4 linked regions of the Homo sapiens genome follow. The protein of the gene in region 4 interacts with the protein of the main gene of each other region in a pairwise test. Each region holds a gene or a part of one and is shown on either strand. Other genes may lie near its edges.

Region 1 (7,039 bases), on a different chromosome or scaffold from region 4:
ATTTGTTACAGTTGAGGGGGAGGAGATAGAATTAAGCATGTGGAGGTGCATGGATGTAGAAGATCACTTTGATCTGTTATTTCTTTTTTCTTGAAGAGTTGTTTTGCCAGAAAAGCCAGTCAGTTTGAATAAATATGAAACCAGCCACTTGACCTCAGTGCTAATACTTCGTAGCCTCCAAAGCAAAGTGTCTGCTCCCTGGCCCCTGGCACCATTGATTCACCATGAGTCAATGACCCTTAAATAGAATTTCAGCAGGCTGGAGTTGGCTGCAACGAACTGGTCAATGTCACCCCTTCCTCTGGGTCCTGAAAAAGCTGTATCCACTGAAGCAAATGACTGCTATACAGGTTTGAGGGAGAAGGGGGAAGCAAAAAACAAATAAACAAAAGCAACCAAAAAAACTGTACTACTGAATTATAGGTTTTTCTATGCATTGACATCATACTGACTTCAACAAATTTGAGAGCTTGAAGTTTACTCAAACTTCCAGATCCCTGAGGTCACTGCTCAGTGGATTAAAAGAAATAAGTGAGAAGAAAGTCTCCTGATTCATTGTGTGTTTGCATGTGTGTGGGAGTGTGCACAAATGTGGACATTTAGACACATGCTTTAGGTTCAAACAGCTTTTTGGCAATGTGCCAGTTCTCACCCCTCCCACACCCACCTCATTTATCTCGTCTCTCATGGCGCAGTACTCCACACTACGGGACAGGGTCCGTCCATACTCCTCAGCTTTGGCACGCCACTTCATGCTGTCCTCCTCAAGGAGCTCCAGCTGCTGCTGTAGGTTCTTTGCAGAAACATTAGAGCAGTGCTAAAAGAGACAAATGGTGGTAACAGAGAGAAAGGACGAAACAGCAATAAGACGAGTAGGCTATTTACCTGAATTATGAAACTCATAAATGACACTTTTTAAAAAAAGAAATAGGTTCCTGATTTATTTTACCTTAAACATATTTGAACATAATTATTTCAGAAAGAAGCCAGTCACCCAACATTATGGAAAAGACATTTCCCAGCTCAAATCTCTAGTGTTGAAGATTCGCTCATCACACCCAACTCCTCAGAGACGCCATTCATTATAGGGTATAATTTTTACTTCAAAAGGCATAAAATATGCATTAGAAACATTTGATTTCTGCACTATAATTTTCCTGTCAACTTGAGCCTAACCTCAGGTTCATTATGCAAGTGCTCCAATCTCAGCTCAGCACAGTGGGGCTGCCAGGGCCAAGGCCAGAAGAGGATTGGAGAACAATTTACATTATTTGCACAAAGTGAGACTTCTTGCTTTCTTTTTCTTTTAAAAATAAATGTACTAATAAAATAAACTCTTTAAAAAGAAAGCTCTTTCCTGGCAAAAAACCAATTCCATTAACAACAACAGATAATTTGTATTTCTATATCTTTCAGTTTAAAAAATACATATTTTAGATTCACTGCATTTCATATAGTTTAGTGGATATCTTACATGTATTTTAAAATAAAATGGGCCATTATGATTTTATTAATGTTATACCTATTGTTAGAGTAAACATAATCTTTTCTCCCCTCAAGTTAGAAATCTGGAAAAGGATTTTTTTGTTTTGTTTTGTTGTTGTTGTTGTTTCTGTTTTTTTGTTTTGTTTTGTTTTTTTGAGATGGAGTCTTATTTACTCTGTCGCCCAGGCTGGAGTGCAATGGCTGGATCTCAACTCACTGCAACCTCCGCCTCCTGGGTTCAAGCGATTCTTCTGCCTCAGCCTCCCAAGTAATTGGGATTACAGGCACGTAATACCACGCCTGGCTAATTGTTGTATTTTTAGTAGAGACGGAGTTTTGCCATGTTGGCCAGGCTGGACTTGAACTTCTCGGCCTCCTAAAGTGCTGGGATTACAGGCATTAGCCAATGTGCCCAGGCTAAAGAAGGAATTTTTTTAAAGAATCAATGTCCAGTGTATTATTGATGAAAATTTGATCTGGGAATATTTCCTTCTCTTTTAGGCCTCTCTTTTGAAGTCCGACAGTGGCATCAAACAAATCCAACCAGCCCTGGCTAGAATCAGGAGGCTTGGACTCCTCCATTCTGGGCTTTTATGGGTAAGGTGGGAATTTCTGTTTGCCTCAAATTCTTCATCCATAAAATGATAGCTCTGGCCTGGATGAACTCTAAGATCTAGATGGTCTTCCAGATCTGCAATGCTAAAACAGCACTGGCCAACAAAATGTGAACCACACAAACAATTTAAAATTGTCTAGTAGTCATATCAAAAAATCAAATAAAAAGATAGAGCAAAATTAATTTTTATAATACAATAACCAACTATGTCCAAATATCACCATTTTAACATGTAAGTAATATAAAAAATACTAATGTGATTGCTTTTCATAATACCTCTTTGAAATCTGGTGTGTATTTCATACTTTGAGCTTCCTCATTTGTTGCTAAATTTCGATCAGAAATATTAGATCTGTATTTTAATTTTTTAAATTTACAGTTTCGAAAGTTGATTCCCATACCCAAATTGCTCCCAACATACTTAAAAGTTGTCCCATAACTATACTGAAGATCAATTTTTAAATTTATATTTAAATTAATGCAAGTTAAATAAAATTAAAACTTTAGTTTTTTAGTTGCATTAGGCACACATCAAAGGCAAAAAAGTGACTGCCACACTGGACTATACAGATCTACTATATAAATACTCTTTAAAAATTTTTTTTCATGAAAATAGAGGTATTCAACAAGACTTTTACATTCAGATTTTCTACTTAAAATTTTTTCTTTTGTCAGAGGGTAGAAATGAATCACAAATAACTACCCCAATGGTTTAGTTTATTTTTAAATTTAACATATACTAAGCAATCTGCCTGGTTTCTTTCATATGCTAGCCCAAGCCCCAGCTAGAACTGAGTCTAAATGATAGTGTTATTAGATGCTTACAGGCCGCTGCACTGATGAGATGATGTCGACTCCTAAGGAAAGGGCCAGTCTGTGGAGATGGTCTACACGGGCTTGCTTTTCCTGAGAGCACCGGAGGTGAATCTGCACATCATGGGCATCACCCAGTTCCTTCGGCTGCTCTACAAACTCCAGCTCTCTTGATTTGATGAGACGTCCCAGCTACAATTTAGGGCATTAACAATTAACCTGGGTTTTATATGAAGACAAATTTTTTTTTAAGCCTAATTTCTATAGCACATTTTGCTAGCTGGTCGAAATGCTGCCAAGCCCATCTTTAAACTGTTGGCATTAGCCAAATAAATGTTAGAATGCTGCAAATCCAATGGTGGTAAAATTGAACTGCTAACGTTGTCAGTTCCATTAAAGAAGGAAACAGTCTTTTTGGTCATGACCCAAAACCTTAGCAAGATCTAGGTCTGTGCTCTGAGTAAATTTAGAGGCTATTTTAAAGGGATATTAACGAATATTCCTCCATCTTATGTTAATAGAGACCATAACTATGAAGTTTTTGTAAAAATGCCACCAACAAATAGCACTCCATGATGTCAGGTACTTGAAGTGCAAAAAAAAAAAAAAAAAAAATCTAACTTGGTTTTCGCCCTCAAAGAGCCTAGAATTGAATTGGGGCGGGGGAGAGGGGGTGGGCGGGAAGCTATGCTTATCAAAAAGTAATTAAGAATCAAGATAGTAAAATGCAAGATATGTGGAATACACAATGAGCTGTAGGATTTTTGAAGAGAGAGAAATCATTCCAAGTGAGGTAGGATTGTTGGAAGGAGGTATAGGATTTAGATAAGAGGGAGGAGAAAGACAGACTTGTCAAATAATGGCAGCCTGAGAGTCAAGGGTTGGAGTTAGGGATGTGTGCATCATCTCTGAGGGACAAAGAGCTCAGTTTGGCTGGAACAAAAGGAAGAATAGGAACATAGTGAGAGAAAAGATAGGGGCCAGATTGTGTAAACTTCTGATACTAGAAGACACAATTTGGCCTTTATTTATTATATAATAATTCATTTTTAATTGCATAGTTTAAAACTCAGGATTTTTCAGACATCCCTTCTAAGCCTTACCTCTTCCTTGACTTGATGGAACTGGACCACCTTGTACAGGATATCCTCGTAATCCTGGATTCTCTCTTTCTGTTTTTGATGGAAGTGAATAAGGTCCTTCAGTTGTTGAGACTTTTCTTTTACAGGGGCTCCTCTGCCAGTTAACTCCTCTGATTCTTTCATAATGTACTGAACCTCATCATTCAATTGCTAAAACATTGAAAGCAATAAAAAAATCTTGCTATTAAAGAACTTTTTTACTTTACAACTGACAATATAAAGGTCTAAACAATGAATCACTCTTTCATTTGTTAACAAATACTTATTATGAATGCCCCCACCCTCCAAAATATTTGGGCATTGTGCTGGATGATAGAGATATGTTTTTCTATACTCACCTGAGAAATTTACAAAAAAAAATAGCATGAGCAATGCAACAAAGGTTTCAAAGCTAGGTGGAAAAACAAAGTCATACATTTCTATGGCATACCAAATATTCTATTCATCTGTTAAGTAAATGTATTTTAGATATTTTATGCAGCCCCATGATTATCTCTGATATTTAATACAGACTAGAATCAGGTGGTATGGTAAAAACACCATGAGAAGATGGGTGTAAAAATATATCAGGGGAATAACTTGTGCTCTGTGATAAAAGAATGATCAGAATGAACCACCAGCTGAACAGCATAGTAGATAGACTGCTTCAAAAGCGGTCATCCCATGATCCACAAATAGCCATCACATGTAGGGAGGGATAAACTGCCTTGCCTTTCACCCAGCATTGCTCAGATAATCCAGATTCTGGAATAGAATTTGCAAAAGGGGCATACTTTAAAGAGAATGCTACTATAGGCTGGGCATGGTGGCTCACGCCTGTAATCCCAGCACTTTGGGAGGCCAAGGAGGGTGGACCACCTGAAGGCAGGAGTTCAAGACCAGCCTGGCCAACATGGCAGAACCCTGTCTCTACCAAAAATACAAAAATTAGCTGGGCGTGGTGGCACACACCTGTAATCCCAGCTACCCCAGAGGCTGAGACACGAGAATCACTTGAACCTGGGAGGCGGAGGCTGCAGCAAGATAAAATTGTGCTACTGCACTCCAGCCTGGGCAACAGAGTAAGACTCTGTCTCAAAAAAAAAAAAAAAAAAAAAAAGACAGTGAGAGAAAGATAGAGAATGCTACTATAATTTCAAGTGTAGATCTTTTGTATGAAAGGTAAAAGTAATGGAAATGATTTAGACTAAGGAGATAATTTTCAGAAGAGTGACCTAAAAAGGGTCTTCAAGTTCAAGCATTTGGGCATTAAATATATGTGCATCACAGTGACAGGGCTAAAGAGGTGTGACAATGGTCCTGATTTAGAGGAACTTACACGTACATGCAAACGTGCACACAAACAAAATGCATATAAGCAGATAACGCAGGGTGTATTAAAGAGCCTAATATAGGCCAGTCACATTTGCTGAGAGTTTTATAAGAGTTTGCTGTGGATTACAATGGTGGGTGTGTTTCTGTGTAGCAGGTGCGGTGGTTATACTTACATCGGTTTTTGTCTTAAAGGAACCTACAATTAGATATTCCCTAAAGGAATCTTCAATATTCTGATTCTGGGATTCTTTGAAGCCCACATTTATGAAGCAGTGACAGCTAGAAACACAGGTATCTAAATTTTGCAGCAAAGCATAAGAATCCAGGCAGAAGTATAATGTGACTAGCAGGTGGCAATTTTTGGCGGTTGTGTCACATTTTGGAGAGGCAGGAGGTGGGGAAATAGGGACTGTGTTAAGCAGTCAGGGTCAGGAACATGACTCATGGTTTTATTGCTCATATCCTGAAAGGTGGAGTGGAGGGCACAGCAAAATTCCTGGGGTGATGGTACGTGCCTGGGGTGCTGGTGGGTGAGGACAGTGACATAACAGTGGTCACCTCAGGGACCCAGGGCAGCAGAGCCTCTGGGTCCGAGGTTGCCCATCCTTGTTCTGAGATGTCTCAATTTAAAACACCTCTGCACTCCCAAGGAAAAGAATTAGAGTGAAAATATAGGATAAATATATTACTAGTTTAATTAGCCATGTGAATTTTAAAAATCTAATATAAAAATCTATTTAGGACATTGTATAGCCCTAATGCTGGTATATCATCAAATTCAAAAGAATGCAGGAAAAAAGTAAGAAAAATGTCTCTACAGTGGATTTTTAGACAAGCAATACTTTTGTTTAAAAAAATAGAAATTCACCAGCCTGTTACAATTAATCAGGTAAACTGCAACCAAACAGTTTTAAGTATTTTTTCCATTCACCCAAATCCAGCAATATATTTCTTCACCTGGAACTGAGGCTTCATGTCATTCCATTTTTGTCGTAGATCTAAAATGAACTGGAGGCTCCCTCCGAGGTCAAGTGCAGACACAGGCATAAGTGCTTCCTGAAGAAGTTTTAAGTTGTGAGAAGTCTGAAATAAATATTGGACAGTTACACATGCATTTTCTTTGACATCTCCAGCAAATTTGATCATTCTAGGTATGACGCAGAGTGTGATCAAATTTTTCAAACCCCATGAAAACACTCAGGATGTGGCATGAGCTCAGGGTTCTAAACCACCAAGAAGTAAGGCCCTTGGTTTCTGCTGCCTTTTTTGGTTTTATTGTGGTAAAATACACATAACAAAAGTTACCATGTTTACCATTTTGGGGTGTACAGTTCAGAGGCATGATATTTAATACATTCACATCAATGTGCAATCAACATCACCACCAACCACCTCCAGAACTTGTTTATCATCCCAAACAGAAACTCTGTACCCATTTAACAGCTCCCCATTCCCTCCCTCTCTCTCCCAGTCCCTGGTAACCTACATTCTGCTTTCTGCCTCCATGAGTTTGACTACAGGGACCTCATTTATAAGTGGAATCACACGATATTTATCCTTTTGTGTTTGGCTTATTTCACTTAGCTAGTGTTTTCAAGGTTCGCTCATGTTAGCCTGTGTCGGAATTTCATTCCTTTTCACATCCCATTGTTCCTTGCCTCACCTTTTT
Region 2 (7,039 bases), on a different chromosome or scaffold from region 4:
TGAAAATGAAATTTTACAATAGAGATATTGTAAAAATGGGTGTTTGAGGAGGATCGTCTTTGAAAAATTATCTACTGGGTGTTACTGAAAATGAAAATTTTACAATACGGATATTGTAAAAATGGAGTTTGAGGAGGAGCACCTTAGAAACTTTATACAAGATGGGGATCCTGGGAGCAAGGAAATTGGAAAAAAAAGAATTACAGTAACCTGGGCCTCAGATCTACATGAAAAGCTATAATGGGATGAGAGAAATGGGAGATCAAGCCTCAAGGAGAAAACTGATTAAAAACTGGACTGACAGCAAGTTTTTGGACATGGAGAATGGAGAGCAGAAAAAGATAACTCCAAGGCTGGGGTAAAAATATAAAGGTGGTGACACTTTTCAGGGCAAAGGAATTACGCAATGAGGCCTGTTTAAAAAGAAAACGGGGGCTGGGGATATATGGTGATGAATCCTGTTTTCAAATATCAAGTTGTACAGGTACCTGTGGAAAATTCCAAAAGTCACAAACTGACCCACAGGGTGGGAAAAATGAAGTCATTCGAATACAAATAGTAGGTATAAACAATCAAAATGGATAAATAGGAGTATAGAAAATGAAGTGAATAAAAGACAGGGAGATTATTCTCAGTGGAGAAGAGGAGAAAGGGGAGTGGGTGGAAAGATCAACTAAAAAAAGAAAGACAGATATTAGAGAAAAAGGATCCCACAAGCCAAAGGAGGGAGAATTCAACAATATAAAATATAAATTAGATCAAAAAAGACAAGAAATAATAATAAAAAAAGGCCTTATTATTTGTCCACTGGTGAGTCTAAGAACATTTCACTGGAATGCTAAGTATGAAAGCCAGTAAAAAGAAGTTTTAAGAACAGATTAATGAAAAAGGGGGGTTGAAAAATCAAAGATATGTTTGAAAAACCATGAACAATAGAGGAGAAACAGAATGGTAGTTGGAAATGGGCAATGAGGATGAAAGCATTTCACATTTTATGCTGTAGATGAACTTACTATTGTCATCCTAACTGACCATCTGCCTGGCCTGGTACATGGATATTTCATTTCCCTCCACAATTCTACTTTCCCTTTGGCAGTTTGGAGAAAAATATATTTGAATTTATTATTGCTTTATCCTCCCAATTACTCTGTTAAATATGTTTTGTTTGCACAATTTAGCTTTGTAGTACTACAAAGCATCAACACTTAAAAATGATATAATTGTAACCCCAAAAAGCATTTTCCACCAATTTTCCAGTAATTGTAATGTATTTGCACTCTACTGCACATTCTTTTCCCCAGTACCTCTCATGACAAGCGCTACATATTTTTAAAAAGCTGGTTAGAATTACCATGTTCATTATACACACCTTAGCACAGTAGTCAGAACAGGCTCTAGAATCAAACTGTGTGGGTCAGAATCAGTTTTATCACATACTGGCTGGGTGATATTGGTCAGCTCACTCAACTAAGCCTCCGTTTCCTCATTTATAAAATGGGGGATAAAATAATACCTATTGATATGGTTTGGCTGTGTCCCATCCAAATCTCATCTTGAATTGTAGCTCCCACAATTCCCACGTGTCGTGGGTGGGACCAAGTGGGAGGTAATTGAATCACGGGGGCAGAACTTTCCTGTGCTGTTCTTGTGATAGTGAATAAGTCTCACAAGATCGGACGGTTTTATAAAGAGTTCCCCTGCACAAGTTCTCTCTTTGCCTGCTGCCATCCATGTATAAGACATGATTTGCTCCTCCTTGCCTTCCACCATGATTGTGAGGCGTCCCCAGCCATGTGGAACTGAGTCCATTAAACCTCTTTCCTTTATAAATTACCCAGTGTCAGGTATGTCTTTAATAGCAGCATGAGAACAGACTAATACATTTATCATGAGCCTGAGAAAGGCATAACAGGGTTGGGCACATAGTAAGTGCTCAATAAACGTCGGCTATTATTATTTGGAGACTCAGAACCAAGAGTAAAGTTAACTGCTCTGTTTGGGAATCAACCACCATATTCTAGCACTGCACCTTGCTCCATGGAGAAAATCTCTGAAACCTAACATGCCTCTCCCAGGGCTATGTTGGATGGCATTAGAGTTATGAAAGAACCACCTTATCATGTCAGTTCCTAAAATGAGAAGCTTAGGATGGGAGGAGAAAGTACTGATGAATAGTTCATTTCAGATGAACATAAAGATAGAATCTATAGGATAAAGGAGCTTAATGAATGCCATTCACAGTTAAGAGCTCAAAATGTCATACAGCCTAGTCAATAATATTCTATGCTAAGAGTGTGAACTTGAGACAAAGAATGATTTCTAGTGATGTCCTCAAAGAATCCACAGCCTTTTTCTATTGTCTTATACCATTTGGCTAATTCTGTATATGTGCTGTATCAGCTTTGATAATTCTTTCAAGACACAGTCTTTTCTCACACCCAATATAACACTAATTTTTCTAGTCATATTATTTTCTCCAAATTTATGCCACATGCTTAGTAATTCTGAGATTTAAGTAATCTGGCTACATATTACTCTTAATACTGACACATAAAGAGACTTTAGCTAGTACATCTGTATACATTTCAATGTGTTGCTCTGGTCTATGGCCATACCACCCTGAATGCACCCAATTTTGTTAATATGTTGCATTGCTAAAAGGACTTTTTATTGGAATAGAAGAGAAGCGTTCTTCTAAAGTGTATGGCAGGTGTGTGTGTGTGTGTACATACACATGTGTACATACACATATATTTTCCCTCTGACAATGCACCCATCATATGTAATATTTGCATACAAGGTAATACTGGCCCCAGGAAGAATCAGTATCTTACAGAGGGTAAGGCACAACTGAAACACAGAGCAAAGATCTAGATACAACCAGATTTACTTGTTTCTGGTTTCTTAAAATTTCAAGTACAAAGAAACTAGGAATGGTAACTTATAAATAAAAGAAACAAGAGAAGGGAGGATAAGAAAATAAAGGATAATCGAAAGGACTGTTGGAAACCAACATGACAAGTGATGGGTGTCTTCATTCACCAATGGCTCAATGAAATTGATGTAGATAATTCTGATGTTGTTAGTGGTCAAAGTGGGCCATAGAGAGGCAGAGAAGGAATGTTATAGGGAAAGAATTTATGATCCAAAAGGTGGTCCTCTATGACGTAAGACTTTGATTGCTTTTTTTGGCCCATCAATCATAAAATGATTATTATTTCTTTTCAGGATAGTCACAGGGTGAAATTATGAAGCTTTCATCAGAACCTATATAATTTTTTTTCTGAATAGGCTCAATGTAATCAATTTTAAGTTTAAAGGTTAATTTTGGAAAGCCCAAAATTTCTCAATTCCAACTCTGGTGAATAAGTGGCTACTCAAATGGTAAAACTAAAGTGTAAGAGTAATAGAGGGTTTTCTCATATGGTTTATTAAATGGGAATTCTAAGAGTGTTCCAAATATTTGGAAGAATATAGTAGTATGGAATAATAGTACTTGGGAATAACAAGTGACAACCCACATTGGATGCGTAAGTTCTGGCATGTTACTTTAAACCAGTCTCATTACTTTATATAGTATTCCTTGGTATAACAAAAGCCTCAAAGATGAAATATAGTGCCTGGTGATACTGAGTTTAAGAGTACATCTTTGTTGGTAGATTATAGACATGGATTACAGATGGAGTGCACCAGAGTTCAAAAGAATGAAAACCTGTGAGGTAAGGTATTAGATTACCACTGTGGATATTAAAGTCATATAAACTAATGGCAAGAAACAGATGGAGAATAACGAGTGAGGTGCTGAGGCCATCTAAAGAGATGGGTGCAAGGTAATGATAGGAGTGACAGACCATCTAGTCAGGGAGTTTGCACAGGCTGTTAAGAACCTGAGAAAGCAGTATTGTAATGGGCCAAAAAAGATGAGTATACATTCTTTGTAAGGTTTTTATCTTCCTAAAGCATCTTCGTCTCCTTCTCCTACCTGATGCCATAACTAGGATAGTGCCAACTATCTGTACCACAGTGTACAGTGGGGAGGTGGAAGGAGAGTCAGAAGTCACCAAAATGTATAACTATCCAAGCTCAAGAGCAGCTGGGCTGAGTCTCCACTCACCTCTTTCTCTGTATTACTCCCATAACCATTACTAATGTGTCCACTTTCTTTACTGACACAGGTGCTGGGACTGGGGGTGGTGAAGGATATGTACAGATGCTCAATGACTCAATGGAGTCAGTGAAGGTGATACATGAAGAAAAATGCTGGAGTGCTGTTAAAAATATAGCATTCTGAGTTTGTATGGGAATACAAATTTCCACTGACTAGAAGGAATATTAGAATAAAAAAATGCACACTTAAGCATAAATACTTTAAGTGTCTGTAAAATTTTCCTAGAAAGCTACATACAAATATAAGTTTCACACAGAAGCTACTTCTGACTCTACAGCAGCTTCTTAGATCAGATTAGGAATACAAGGGCACCTTCAAGGGAATAAATGGGAGAGGGGGATCACAGGAGATGGGAAGAAGCACAGGAACTAGGAGTAGCCAGCCTCTCTCAAACCTATAGCTACTCACCCAAAAGACAAAGTTAAGCTCTTCAAGCCATGACAAGCAACTTGCTCTAATGCTATTTTAAATTTCTAAAGGATACATTAGGTCATCAGGAGCTCCATCAGATACTTTCAAAGACAGTCAAGCTAATCAACCTTCACCAAGGCACTGGGCCCAAATTACTAAAGAGCTATCCTAACTTTGCCACCACTATAGATTCTGACACTAAAGTTGTGATGACCTTTCTGCCTTTTAGTACACTGAAAGACCTCTCACCAGTGTGTGGTTTCCCTAATGCTGAATAATGCTCAAACTCTAACTGATGTTGTTCCTAAACGCTTATGGATTCAGATTTTTCACCACTGTGGATTCTCTGATGTCGAATGAGACTTGACCTCTGAATAAAGGCTTTCCCACACTCATTACATTGGTAGGGCTTCTCCCCTGTGTGAATTCTCAGGTGTTGAATGAGACCAGTGTTCCCATTGAAAGCTTTCCCACATTCTTTACATTTATAGGGTCTTTCTCCAGTGTGGATTCTCTGATGTTCAATAAGGCCTGACTTCTGACTGAAGGCCCTCCCACACTCATTGCATTTGTAGGGTTTCTCCCCAGTGTGGCTCCTCTGATGACCAATAAGATGTGAGCTCCGCCTGAAGGTTTTCCCACACTCATCACACTCATAGGGCTTCTCCCCAGTGTGGATTCTCTGATGTCCAATGAGGTGTGAGCTATGACTGAAAGCTTTCCCACACTCATTACATTCATAGGGTCTCTCTCCACTGTGGATTCTCTGGTGCAGAATAAGGCCCGCACTCTGACTGAAAGCCTTCCCACACTGATTGCACTGATATGGCTTCTCCCCAGTGTGGATTCTCTGGTGCAGAATCAGGCCTGTGTTCTGACTGAAGGCTTTGCCACACTCCTTACAGTGATAGCGTTTTACTTTGTTGTGGATATCCTGATGTGAAAGAAGGGCTGACCTGTAACTGAAGGCTTTACCACACACATTACACTGATAGGGTTTCTCCCCAGTGTGGATTCTCCAGTGGCGAACAAGGCCTGAGCTCTGAGCAAAGCTTTTCCCACATTCATCACATTTATGTCGTCTCTCTTGTGTGGGATTTCCCCGCTGCCTCTCTAATCTGCCCAGAAGGTCTCGGGCTTCTTCATGCTCAAGACCCCTGATAACATCCCCGTTGCATTTGGCAGCTGTCTCTCCATGTGGCTGGATTCCAGTAGATATTACCTGTTTTGAAGCTAATTCCCTGTTCTCACTCCTGGTCTCACCACCTGAAATAAAAATGTAATAAACAAACATCAAGCCAATGTCACAACCTATTCTTTATGCTAGGAGAAAGGAACTGAAGATAGGGGAAAAGGAAAGTACACATGAACAGCTATAAGTAAACACAAAACTTCTGTCTCCAAAATAGCTTCTTAATAGTGACCTTGCTTAATATGAGCTAGTCAACTGGGAAAGAGGTACCATTAAAAAAAGAGAGTTAATTGGAAGGGGAACTAAAGTCAGGAAAGGATGAACTGAAGTGAGGTGAAAGTTGGGGAGAGGAATATGGAACTACTAAAAGAACTAATGAGCAGGACAGAAATGGGAAAATGCCCAGTCATCAAAAGGGAGGAGATACAATTAATTTATGTGAGAAAAATATATGTAGGAATCCCATGACAACTTGGAGAAGAAATATATGAACTCAGAGAGCACCTCTGAGATGTCAATTTCCAACTGGCAAAAACGCCAGTACCCTGGTACAAAATGTAAGGAAGTTCTGGACAGGAGAACAAAAGTTTCACGTAAGATTTCAAGAAATCTCAACATCATATCCCTCTGCTGGATCCTGAGTTAAACTTAACTATGTCTTTCAGAAAGGCTGTAGCTACTATACACATAAACAACAAACAAACAAAAAATCTAAAATGACAATAATAACCACACCTCTCCTTACCCAGGGAGAACATGTTTCTGAAATTTTCTGGCCTGTTATCTCTACACAGATCCTTCTGTGATGGATCAAGAAGCCACTCCTCTCGAATAAGGGACACAGCCATGTCTTCAATCTTCTCCAAAGTCTGAAACAAAACAAGATCCCCATTTGGGGACTGGGACTGTTCCACAGCTCAAACCTATAGAGCTTGAGAGATCCACCAGTATTGGGAGAGAATTACAACTTGGGAATGTACTATGTAAAGGGATCTGAATAGCTAGGAAGAAGAGGAAAATGCATGAGATTTACTGGGGGAAATTCAGGATCAATCTGTCCCTAGGCAAAAGAATTTTTGGGACAACTTTTTGGGTAGGTACTGCTACAAACTAGACAGTCAAGATATAGGGCAGATGCCACAAACACTGACAAGCACAGCTATGGCGTTTCAGTGAGAAGGAGCACAACTCACCTGGAACCCTGCTGTGAGAAGTGTAGCTGTCATTTCCTGGTCTCCAGAACTTCCTTTCTGGGAACGAGTAGGACT
Region 3 (4,644 bases), on a different chromosome or scaffold from region 4:
CAGAACTCAGCCAATATATCTGGAAAGGTAGTTCCTGGAAGGTCTAATTGCAACTTAATGATGCAAAACTTAAAATACTTGTATTATCAAGTGAGAACCTTATGATCCAGCTATCTTGCAGAGAACCTCCCATAAAAATGCATCTGAATTTTAGCCAATCACAGAAATCGTAGGTAAGTAGTCAAATCAAATAAAGGCCTCTGTTTTCTCTGACACACCAACAACCAGCGACACATTTTTCTGTCTCTCAGAGTCACCTTGAGATTTGAATTATTCGAATGCTAAGAATCAAAGCCACGCTGAGAGATCTCACACAGCACATGAAGCCAGAGAGATTTTAATAGGTTGGTGTATCAGGTGTTTCTCTTCATGTGAGTGCTTAGCCCAGGTGTATTCACCCACTGAACTAAGAACACTGATAAGCCTGCAGAAGTGGTGCTGAAGGAAAGCTAAGCACCATGGAGGACTAAGTGAGGCAAGTAGAAGACATGGACAATGGACATTCTTTTTTTTTTTTTTTTTTTTTTTGAGATGGAGTCTTGCTCTGTCGCCCAGGCTGGAGTGCAGTGGCACCATCTAGGCTCACTGCAAGCTCCGCCTCCCAGGTTCACACCATTCTCCTGCCTCAGCCTCAGAGTAGCTGGGACTACAGGCGCCCGCCACCACGCCTGGCTAATTTTTTGTATTTTTAGTAGAGACGGGGTTTCACCATGTTAGCCAGGATGGTCTCGATCTCCTGACCTCGTGATCCGCCCGCCTTGGCCTCCCAAAGTGCTGGGATTACAGGTATGAGTCACAGCGCCCGGCGAAGACATGGAAATTCTTAGAACCACTCTGGTCACTTACTCAGTTACATTGGGGAGAACATAAAGATCAGTTATTACTAATTATTCAAATGATCGTAAATGAGTCAGAAAATACTCACATGGGATCACATACTCATGTCCCTTAAGCACATGTCACTCCATAGATAGATCTGCGTTTGCTGCGCATAACCACCACCCATACTGAAAGTTCTGTTGGATCCTAATCTCCGCATTTCTGCTGTCATGGTCCCTGTGCCGACGTCTCTCTGTGTGTGTGTGTCTGTGTGTGCATGTGCACACTCCTATCCTGTGTGTGTCTGCATCTGTATAGCTGTGTAGATTTAATTGCAGAGAAAGTACAGGTCATGGCTGGCTGCGGTGGCTCACGCCTGTAATCCTAGTACTTTGGGAGGCCAAGGCGGGTGGATCACGAGGTCAGAAGATCGAGACCATCCTGGCTAACACAGTGAAACCCCGTCTCTACTAAAAATACAAAAAATAATTAGCCAGGCGTGGTGGCATGTGCCTGTGGTTCCAGCTACTCGGGAGGCTGAGGCAGGAGAATGGCGTGAACCTGGGAGGCGGAGCTTGCAGTGAGCCGAGATCGCGCCACTGCACTCCAGCCTGGGTGACAGAGTGAGATTCCATCTCAAAAAAAAAAAAAAAAAAAAAAAAAAAATACAGGTCACATGTCACATGGCCTGCAGGCCAAGGTGCCATGAAGCCCTGGGCATTTTGATATTAAATTTCCTACAACAGGGGCATCTGAGGTCAGAACAAAAGTAACTTGGCTCCAAGACAAGCGCATTAGGTACTAATGCTGAGCTTTTTTTGATTAAAGTAGTTGACTCAACAGGATAATTGATTACAATCTGAGACTTTATTATCTGATACCCCAAATCCCCCACATAAAAGGGGAGAAAAATGCTGAGCGCTATAAGCTGTCAAGGTGAGAGTCTCCTTGGCTAGACTGTCCTGGACAGCATGGCCTCCAGTGTCCCTCCTGTGGGTAATGAGGGACAGAACTATCTGCCCCCAGACAGCCCGCATGCACCACAACTTTTTTACACCCTTCTGGACACCCACTACTTTAAGAGCCAGAGGTCTAGGGTGAGGGCACCTTACACTGACCAAAATGGCAGTAAATACCCCCATGGAGTCTTCACCTACTTTCTCTCGAATGCCTGGATCTCCAGCCTAGACCAAAGGCATCATGTTCCTCTCCTTAATATATATAATATATACAATAGAAAAAATATATAATAACATTATATAAATATATAACATATTATATGTAAATATATATTATATAATATATAATAACATATAAATATATAATAGAAAAATAGAAAAAAATTACCATAATATATGACTCTTTCTCAAAGTAGTTTAAACATATCACCAAAACGGACTGGAAGAAAAGAATGGTAAGGAAAGGCTGCACATAGCTGGGTCAACCATTTCGTAAGGTGATAATGGAGAATGAACTTTTGGGAAGTTACACAGGTTGCACTGATGGGGAGAAAGAAGAAGATGATACTGAGTCATGCACAGCAGCAGGGCCTCGGCCAGAACGACACCCTGAATCTAAGGTGATGGGGGTGTGTGTTGTGAGTCAGGCTGGGGGCGTCATGACATCATCACAGAAATAGACCTAAAAAGTCCATTCAATCCAACCCCATTCATTTCAATTCACTGCGTACTCACAGGACACAGGCAGCCTCCTGCCAGTTCTCATGTGCCTGCAGGAGGGTTAGAGAAGGCCTTCCTTCCTCTGAACAGCAGCCCTGGATCTTGTGCAGAGACTGGCAAGCAGGGCACAGGCTGATTTCAACCCAGTTTCTGCCCTCGGCTGGGACCCCTCGTGCAGGAAACAGTGGCCTTGCTTGGACACTTTCTTCGTTTTTGAGACAGGCTCTTGCTCTGTCACCTAGACTGGAGGGCAGTAGCATGATCACAGCTCACCGCAGCCTTGAACTCCGGGGCTCAGTTGATCCTCCCACTTCAGCTTCCTGAATAGCTGGGATCACAGGTGTGCGCTACCACACCTGGTTAATTTTTAAATTTTTTGTAGAGATGGGGTCTCACTATCTCAAATGGGGTCTCAAATGCCTGGACTCAAGCGATCCTTTTGCCTCGGCCTCCCAAAATCCTGGGATTACAGGCCGGAGCCAACACTTTCTCTGTGTCGGCACTACTGAGAATACAGATAGTACAGTGACCAGCTAGGATGGACAGCAGCCTAGAGAGGAAGCCAGGCATTAAAGAGGCCTCAGTGTGATGAGTGGTACCAGAGGGGAAGTACAGGATGCTATGGGAGTGCAAACGATGGGATTTCACTTAGTCTAAGGGTCAAAAGACAAGACCATTGAAACACCGGCAAACTAGTTAGACAAGTCAAAGCTTAAGATGTGGAGTTCCTCCACACAATCCCAGCCACTGTGGCTGTCCCCAGAGAGACAAGCCGGCATGGTCAAGGTGACCTTACTGTCCCATCCAAGCTTGACTCTTTACCAGCCTTGAGGTCTCACATATAAAGGCTTCCACCAAGGCCTGCAGCATCAGTTTGCTTCTTGTTGAACCAAGAAATAGATGCCTAGATCTCATATTTCCAAGTCAAGAGGCAGGTCTCTCATAAGCACAAGGATCACAAGATGGGTAGATACATGGCTCAGTCACCTGGCCAGAGGGGCCCCCAAGGCTTCTGGATGAGTGCCATCTGATGCATCTGGCCTGCTGTAGGCTCTAAAGCTCGGGCCCACTCTTGCAAGGTGCATGGTGCGCTCATGCTAGCCAGATGGAAGCACCGCAGTACAAACTCCTCCCCCAGCTTTAGGGGCATGGCTCGGGACATTTGGCCACTTGCAGAGTTTACTCACCTGCCTCTGTTCCTCCACAGCTCCGGCTCCTGTATGAATGCAATCCCGTGGCCTACATCATTGAGCAGGCAGGAGGCTTGGCGACCACGGGGACCCAGCCTGTACTGGACGTGAAGCCCGAGGCAATTCACCAGCGAGTCCCCCTCATTCTGGGGTCACCAGAGGATGTGCAGGAATATCTCACCTGTGTGCAGAAAAATCAGGCAGGCAGCTAGCGAGTTTGACCCCACATGCCCTCTTCTGTTTGTCTTGCACCTTGTCTAAGGACCCTAAATGAACGATAAACAGAGATGGTAGCTATGAGTATACAAAAGGTAAATCCACTTAATCACATACAGAAGAGCAACAACAAACTGCTTACGACAGGTTTGGAAGCCACAGGCGATTCTATGGTCAATGTGAAGGACTAGAAATAAAAACCCACATGTGGAAAGTGCGACTTTGGCTTGTCTTCTGTCAGAAACAGTGGCAAATATGGTTATAATTCCGTCTGTCAACCCACATAATTGGCGGCTGCATGCTTGTGGGCAAAGAGTACATAGATTAGTTAAGAATTTGTCAGCTGGGTGCGGTGGCTCATGCCTGTAATCCCAGCACTTTGGGAGGCCGAGGCCAGCGGATCACGGGGTCAGGAGATCGAGACCATCCTGGCTAACACGGTGAAACCCCATCTCTACTAAAAATACAAAAATTAGCCGGGCGTGGTGGCGGGCGCCTGTAGTCCCAGCTACTCGGGAGGCTGAGGCAGGAGAATGGCGTGAACCCGGGAGGCAGAGCTTGCAGTGAGCCGAGATCGCGCCATTGCACTCCAGCTTGGGTGACAGAGTGAGATTCCATCTAAAAAAATAAAAAATAAAAATTGTCTTGATTGGCTTGAAATTTGAACCTAGTGTCTTATCCTGTAGTGATTACCTCCCTCAAACACATGTAAATTTCCAACTTAATATCTTAGAAGAGTA
Region 4 (6,056 bases):
AGGAGGCTGAGCAGGAGAATTGCTTGAACCCGGGAGGCGGAGGTTGCAGTGAGCCAAGATTGCACCATTGCACTCCAGCCTGGGCAACAAGAGCGAAACTCCATCTCAAAAAAAAACCAAAAAATCAAAAAAAACAAAGAAAGTAAATGCCAAACGTATGTCAATTACTGATGAATGGAAGGAAATTATCACATTTGGCAAAATTAGTTCAAAATGAATAAATCACAGAAATTCTCCTCCCATAAGAAAATACCTAATTTGGATCTTCAGGAGTAAGAACCAGAGATCCACCAGACATTATACATGCTATAATTTAGGTATACTGCACAGAATTACACTCTTATCACATTCTCAGTAAACTCCAGACATCTTAGTCTTACAGTTGAATAAAACTGCTGCCAATGTCTTCTCTTGGTTTAACAATGAAGCTAACGTAGTTTGGAAACAAATAAGAGCTATCAATGGACAGCAAGACATCTATCTAAACCAAACCTTTAGCAGAGAGATCAGTACAGATTATGTATGATACAGACCCCAAATCACACAGGTACACACACTTTATTAGTTTCCTCTACAAGAGACAATAACATCAATCTTTTTTAACAGGAATCTCAGTTCATTTGAGAGGCCAAATAGATCCAAAGAAGGAAGATGAAAATTAAATACTTAAATTAATCAAAAGGCACTACGATACCACCTAAAACCTACTGCCTCAGTGGCAGTAGGCTAAGGAAGATCAAGCTACAGCACATCATCTAATATGAATGTTAGCAATTACATAGCAGGAAGCATGTTTGCTTTCCAGAAGACTATGGTACAATGTTCATTTGGGCCCAAGAGGATATTTGGCCAGGAAAGGATCAAGATAGATGAAGGTAAAGCCAAATCGAAAGGGATAGGTACAAAGGAGAATCCAAGCTACATAGTCAAGCAGATGGTGATGGATCAGGCTTCTTCCTCCCAAGAAACATTTGCTGCACTGTGCTGCCTCCCCCCTCAACCACCCCCCACCCCCCACCCAATGTCTGCTCAAGCTGAGCTGCCTGCTCCTGCCTTACAGGGTGCTCAGCTACCAGGACTAGGTTTGGGGTTGCCCAGGGCTCTTGCTATAATTTAGCATAGACCTTGGGGAGAACTGGTCACACATGGGTTGCCTTTGTTGCTAGTTGTTCTCAACAAAGAAAACCCTGAAGCATTCACATACAAAGTAGTCTGAGCTTCCCCAGTCACAGTCAAACACCCTCACACAACATCCTCAAAAGTCTGAAATCTTGCAGCAGCTGAGCTATAGTTAAAGCTGCAAGGCCCACAGAATTATCAAGGAAGCCAGAATGAGATAATGCAGGTAGGAGGTCCCAGCAGTTAATCTCAATCCGTCTTTCCCCAGTTCGGATAAGCTCTAATATACCTGATGTGGGATGTAGAAAGCTACACTGGAGCAAGCCGGGTCTTCTGCTGAATTTGTCATCAAATACCAAGGGGAAACAAGGGTGGGGTGGATTTTATTCTCAAAAAGCCTCAGAAGTTACTCTATTATAAAGGGACATGGCTGAATAGGTAAGAAACGGATTCTCCATTGTGAGTTCTCCTGATGGCTTCTGCAAGGATCATAGAGATGTCAATCACCTAGAAAGGCAAGAAAGGAAATCAGGTTACTATCATATGGTCAGAGATGACTGGCCAATTTGCAGACACTGATGAGCAGCCAGGCAAGTGCCCTTCCTCTTAAAACTGCAACACTGTGCTGTTTCCCTGTCATGAGGCTGCACTCAGCTATTCTTCATAACATTTTTAAGATAGCCACTTACGGCTGGGCACGGTGGCTCACACCTGTTAATCCCTGCACTTTGGGAGGCCAAGGTGGGCAGATCACTTGAGGCCAGGAGTTGGAGACCAGGCTGGCCAACATGATGAAACCCCGTCTCTACTAAAAATACAAAAATTAACCAAGCATGGTGTGGCACACGCCTGTAATCCCAGCTACTCGGGAGGCTGAGGCATGAGAATTGCTTGAACCTGGGAGGTGGAGGTTGCGGTGAGCCAAGATCGTGCCACTGCACTCCAGCCTGGGTGACAGAGCGAGACTCTGTCTCAAAACAACAAAACAAAACAAAACAGCCACTTAGGAAAGAGTCAAAATGCTAACTGAGAAAAAACGCTGACTTTGGTTCATCAAAATGGCTGGGCACTGTGGCTCACACCTGTAATCCCAGCACTTTGGGAGGCCAAGGTGGGAGGATCACTTGAGCCCAGGAGTTTGAGTCCAGCCTGGGCAATATGGTGAAACTCTGTCTCTACAATAAAACAAAAATTAGCCAGGCGTGGTTGTGGTGTATGCCTGTAGTCCCAGCTACTTGTGAGGCTAAGGCAGGAGGATCGCTTGAGCCTGGGAGTTTGAGGCTGCAGTGAGTCAAGATCAGGCCACTGCACTCCAGCTTAGGCAACAGAGTGAGACCCTGTCTAAAAAAAAATGGTGGTAGGTTCGCATTTAAAAATCCTTCTGAATAGGCTGGGCGTGGTGGCTCATGCCTGTAATCCCAGCAGTTTGGGAGGCCGAGGTGGACGGATCACCTGAGGTCAGGAGTTCAAGACCAGCCTGAGCAACATGGAGAAACCCCATCTCTACTAAAAATAAAAAATTAGTCAGGCGTGGTGGCACATGCCTGTAATCCCAGCTACTTGGGAGGCTGAGGCAGGAGACTCACTTGAACCTGGGAGGCTGAGGTTGCGGTGAGCTGAGATCGTGCCATTGCACTCCAGCCTAGGCAACAAGAGCAAAACTCCATCTCAAAAACAAAAAACAAACAAACAAAAAAACCTTATGAAGGAAAAAAAAAAGACTAAGTTGAAAAAAAATCCTTAAGAATGACATCACCTGTAATCTCAGCACTTTGGGAGGCTGACACAGGAGGATAGCTTGAGGCTAGGAGTTTGAGACCAGCCTGGGCAACATAGGGAGACCCCGTCTCTACACATAATATCAAAAAAATTAGCTGGGCATGGTGGTGCACGCCAGCCACTTGGGAGGCTGAGACAGGATGATTGCCTGAGCCTTCAAAGTTGAGGCTGCAGTGAGCTTTGATTGCGCACTCCGGCTGGGGCAACAGAGCAAGATCCTATCTCAAAAAAAAAAAAAAAAAAGATGATAATCCTCCAATTACACATATTAATTTCAAAAAGCTCATAGATTAATGTGAACATTTTTAATTAAGCAAGGCCTTGTTCTTTTAGTGCAAGAGCACTCAAACTTTAGTTTCTAACAATTACTTGGGGAATTACTTTAAAATACTGGTTCCAGGACCTCTGGTTTTATAGGTCTTAGATGGAGCAAAGGAATCTACATTTTAATAAGAACCTTAGGTCCAGAGCACACTGAGAAACACTAAAGTTGGTAGAAGTGTACAATCAGTTTAAAGGTTTCACATTATATCTACAGGGGCCGATAGTTAACAGACAAACACATACTGTAAAGTATGGACTTGAAAACTTTAATTTGCATCAGAATCACTGGGAGAACCTGTTAAAATGTAGAATCTTAGGCTCCATCTTCCAGAGATTCTGAGGTGTAGCAATTTAAACTTTTAAACAGGTGATTTTCCCAAGGCTTGGCAGTTTGAAAAGAAAAAAAAAAAGGAAAAGAAACAGGTGATTGTTAACTTTTGGATCACAAATTCTGATGACAAGACTAAATCCTTCAGACCAAAGAAAGATATCTTCAGAATCCAGAGACCTAATTCAACGTAAGTAACCACCTCCTAAACACTTAGAAAAGTCTTGTTTTGCACAAATCTCATCCTCACCTGTATTTTGGAGCAATGCTTCATCTTGTCCTCCTGAGGTATGGTATTGGTGACTACTACTGCCTCAAAGCATGCGTTGTTGATGCGAGAAATAGCAGGACCGGAGAAGATTCCATGAGTCAAGATGGCATAAACTCTGGTGGCGCCAGCTGAGAGAAGTCTAGAGGGAAAAAATGTTGATTTGGATTCATCTTACTTGTCATTGCAGAATTTTAGTCAGGGAGGAGTATATTAGCCTGCTTAGGCTTCCACAACAAAATATCATATGAAAAAAAATAAAAAAATAAAAAATATTATAAGGCACAGTGGGTTAGGGGAAAAATTTTTTTAAGGAAAAGAAAATACCATAGAATGGGTGGCTTAAATAACAGAAACAAATTTTTCACAGTTCTGGAGGCTTAAAGTCCAAGATCAAGGTGCAGACAAAGTAGGTGTCATGCTGAGGCCTCTTCTCTTGTAGGTGGCCACCACTTTGCTGTGTGCTCAGATGACCTCTTTGTGTGTGAGTGTGAGTGTGTGTGCACGCATGCGTGCGCATGGGGAAATGCTGGCCAGTTCTCCAGCATTCTCTTCTTATAAGGGCATTCATCCCATTGTAAGGGCTCTGCCCTAGTGACCTCATCTAATCCTAAATACGTGCCCCTCAAGGTAACTCCAAATACCATCACATTGGGGTTAGGCCTCAACATATATGAATTTGGGGAGGACACAATTCAGTCCATATCGAGAAAGAACTGCACTAAGAACTTATCTGAATAGGTCTGAATTAGTGTCAAAGGACTCTGGCATAGACTGTTGCACTTAACAAAATCCACTTCCTCTTCTTTCTGGGCACATAGCTGAACTACATTTCCCAGCCTCCCTCACATAGTTCAGTGTGGCCATGTGGCTTAATTCTGGCTATTAAAATGTGGGCAGACACAATGTACATCAGTTTTTGGTTGGACTTAACAAAAATCTTCCAGGGGTGATCCTCTGTGTTCTTTTCCTTTTCTGGCTGGCCAAAATTGAAATGTCTTCCAAGGTAATCTTGGAAACCCCATGTTAAAGATATAGCACCAAAGATTGAAAGAATCTGAGCTCCTAACTATTGCTTAGAAAAAATGAGTCCAACAAGAACACTTGCATTGGAGTGTGCCATGGACAAGAAGGAAACTATCATGTTAGGGAGTTGATCTGTTATAGCGACTAGTATTCCCGTACTTGTACAAGGATGAAATGGGTTTTATGAATGTTTACTCCAGGATCCCAAACCAAGAATCATTCACCCCAATTTTTTTTTAGCACCTATTATGTGCCAGGCACTGTGCAAGGCACAGACACAAGAAAGTTTAAAAAAACCATTCTCAGGGCTGGGTGCTGTGGCTCACAGCTGAAATCCCAGCACTTTGGGAGGCTGAGGTGGGAGAATTGCTTGAGCCCAGGAGTTCAAGGACAGCCTGGGCAACATAGTGGGACTCCTTCTCTACAAAAATAATAATAATAATAATAAATAATTACCCAAGTGTGGTGGCACTTGCCTGTAGTCCCAGCTACTCGGGAGTCTGAGACAGGAGGATTTCTTGAGCCCAAGATTTCAAGACTGCAGTGAGCCGTAATTGTACTACTACACTCCAGCCTGGGTAACAGAGTGAGACCATGTCTCAAAATAAAAATAAAAGTAAAAATACCATTCTAAGAAACAATGCTGCTCATAGTGGCTTGGATTGTTAGTAATGAGGGGCCACTTAAAATCTTAAAGAGTGATGGGATCGAGCCTCAGTTGCAGGAAGATTAGCAAGCATGGAGAGATGGAGTGGGGAGGTGAGAGAACGGTGACTGGCAATGGAGAACAGAGTGGGGAGGCAATTTAGAACACTGCAGGCAAGAGATGACAAGTAATATAAACATTAACCTATCACAGGATTAGAGTGAAAAAAAGAAGTAATAATGAACAAAAGTAGCAGCCGGTAAAACAGTCGAGAAGTAAGACCAAGGGTTCCGGCTTAGGTAAAATAAAAATATGAGCACACACACCTGTCTGCTCAGGATTTTTATTTTAACTCATTAAAACAAAAAACAATCGCATGTAGCATACTCAGGGTGATCAAAAAACTTTGATGATCAGGCGATGGTTGTCTAACATTGTGAATATAGTTAATGTCATGGAATTATACACTTAAAATAGTTAAAATGGCAAATTGTGTTATATGTAGCTTAGTACAATATAAATTTAAAAAATAAGAAAATCTGAAAAAAAAATAAGAGTACTCAACA

Evidence for each region.
Region 1: the proteins of PRPS1 (region 4) and CCDC141 interact in binary tests that used the Homo sapiens proteins (3 or more experiments, as listed by UniProt).
Region 2: the proteins of PRPS1 (region 4) and ZKSCAN8 interact in binary tests that used the Homo sapiens proteins (3 or more experiments, as listed by UniProt).
Region 3: the proteins of PRPS1 (region 4) and FBP2 interact in binary tests that used the Homo sapiens proteins (3 or more experiments, as listed by UniProt).

The regions. Positions count from the first base shown.
Region 1 is NC_000002.12:178,865,100-178,872,138, forward strand, and holds part of CCDC141 (coiled-coil domain-containing protein 141), read right to left. Parts: coding exon 7,034-7,039; intron 6,454-7,033; coding exon 6,328-6,453; intron 4,207-6,327; coding exon 4,018-4,206; intron 3,107-4,017; coding exon 2,927-3,106; intron 818-2,926; coding exon 668-817; intron 1-667. UniProt on the Homo sapiens protein: Plays a critical role in cortical radial and GnRH neurons migration during brain development. Regulates cortical radial migration by negatively controlling the activity of histone deacetylase 6 (HDAC6) and promotes centrosome maturation.
Region 2 is NC_000006.12:28,151,862-28,158,900, reverse strand, and holds part of ZKSCAN8 (zinc finger protein with KRAB and SCAN domains 8), read right to left. Parts: coding exon 6,965-7,039; intron 6,641-6,964; coding exon 6,517-6,640; intron 5,846-6,516; coding exon 4,884-5,845; 3' UTR 1-4,883. UniProt on the Homo sapiens protein: May be involved in transcriptional regulation.
Region 3 is NC_000009.12:94,558,194-94,562,837, reverse strand, and holds the end of FBP2 (fructose-1,6-bisphosphatase isozyme 2), read left to right. Parts: intron 1-2,513; exon of another isoform or gene 2,514-2,741; intron 2,742-3,685; exon of another isoform or gene 3,686-3,705; coding exon 3,706-3,900; 3' UTR 3,901-4,118; downstream 4,119-4,644.
Region 4 is NC_000023.11:107,645,510-107,651,565, reverse strand, and holds the end of PRPS1 (ribose-phosphate pyrophosphokinase 1), read right to left. Parts: intron 3,961-6,056; coding exon 3,801-3,960; intron 1,627-3,800; coding exon 1,534-1,626; 3' UTR 540-1,533; downstream 1-539. UniProt on the Homo sapiens protein: Catalyzes the synthesis of phosphoribosylpyrophosphate (PRPP) that is essential for nucleotide synthesis.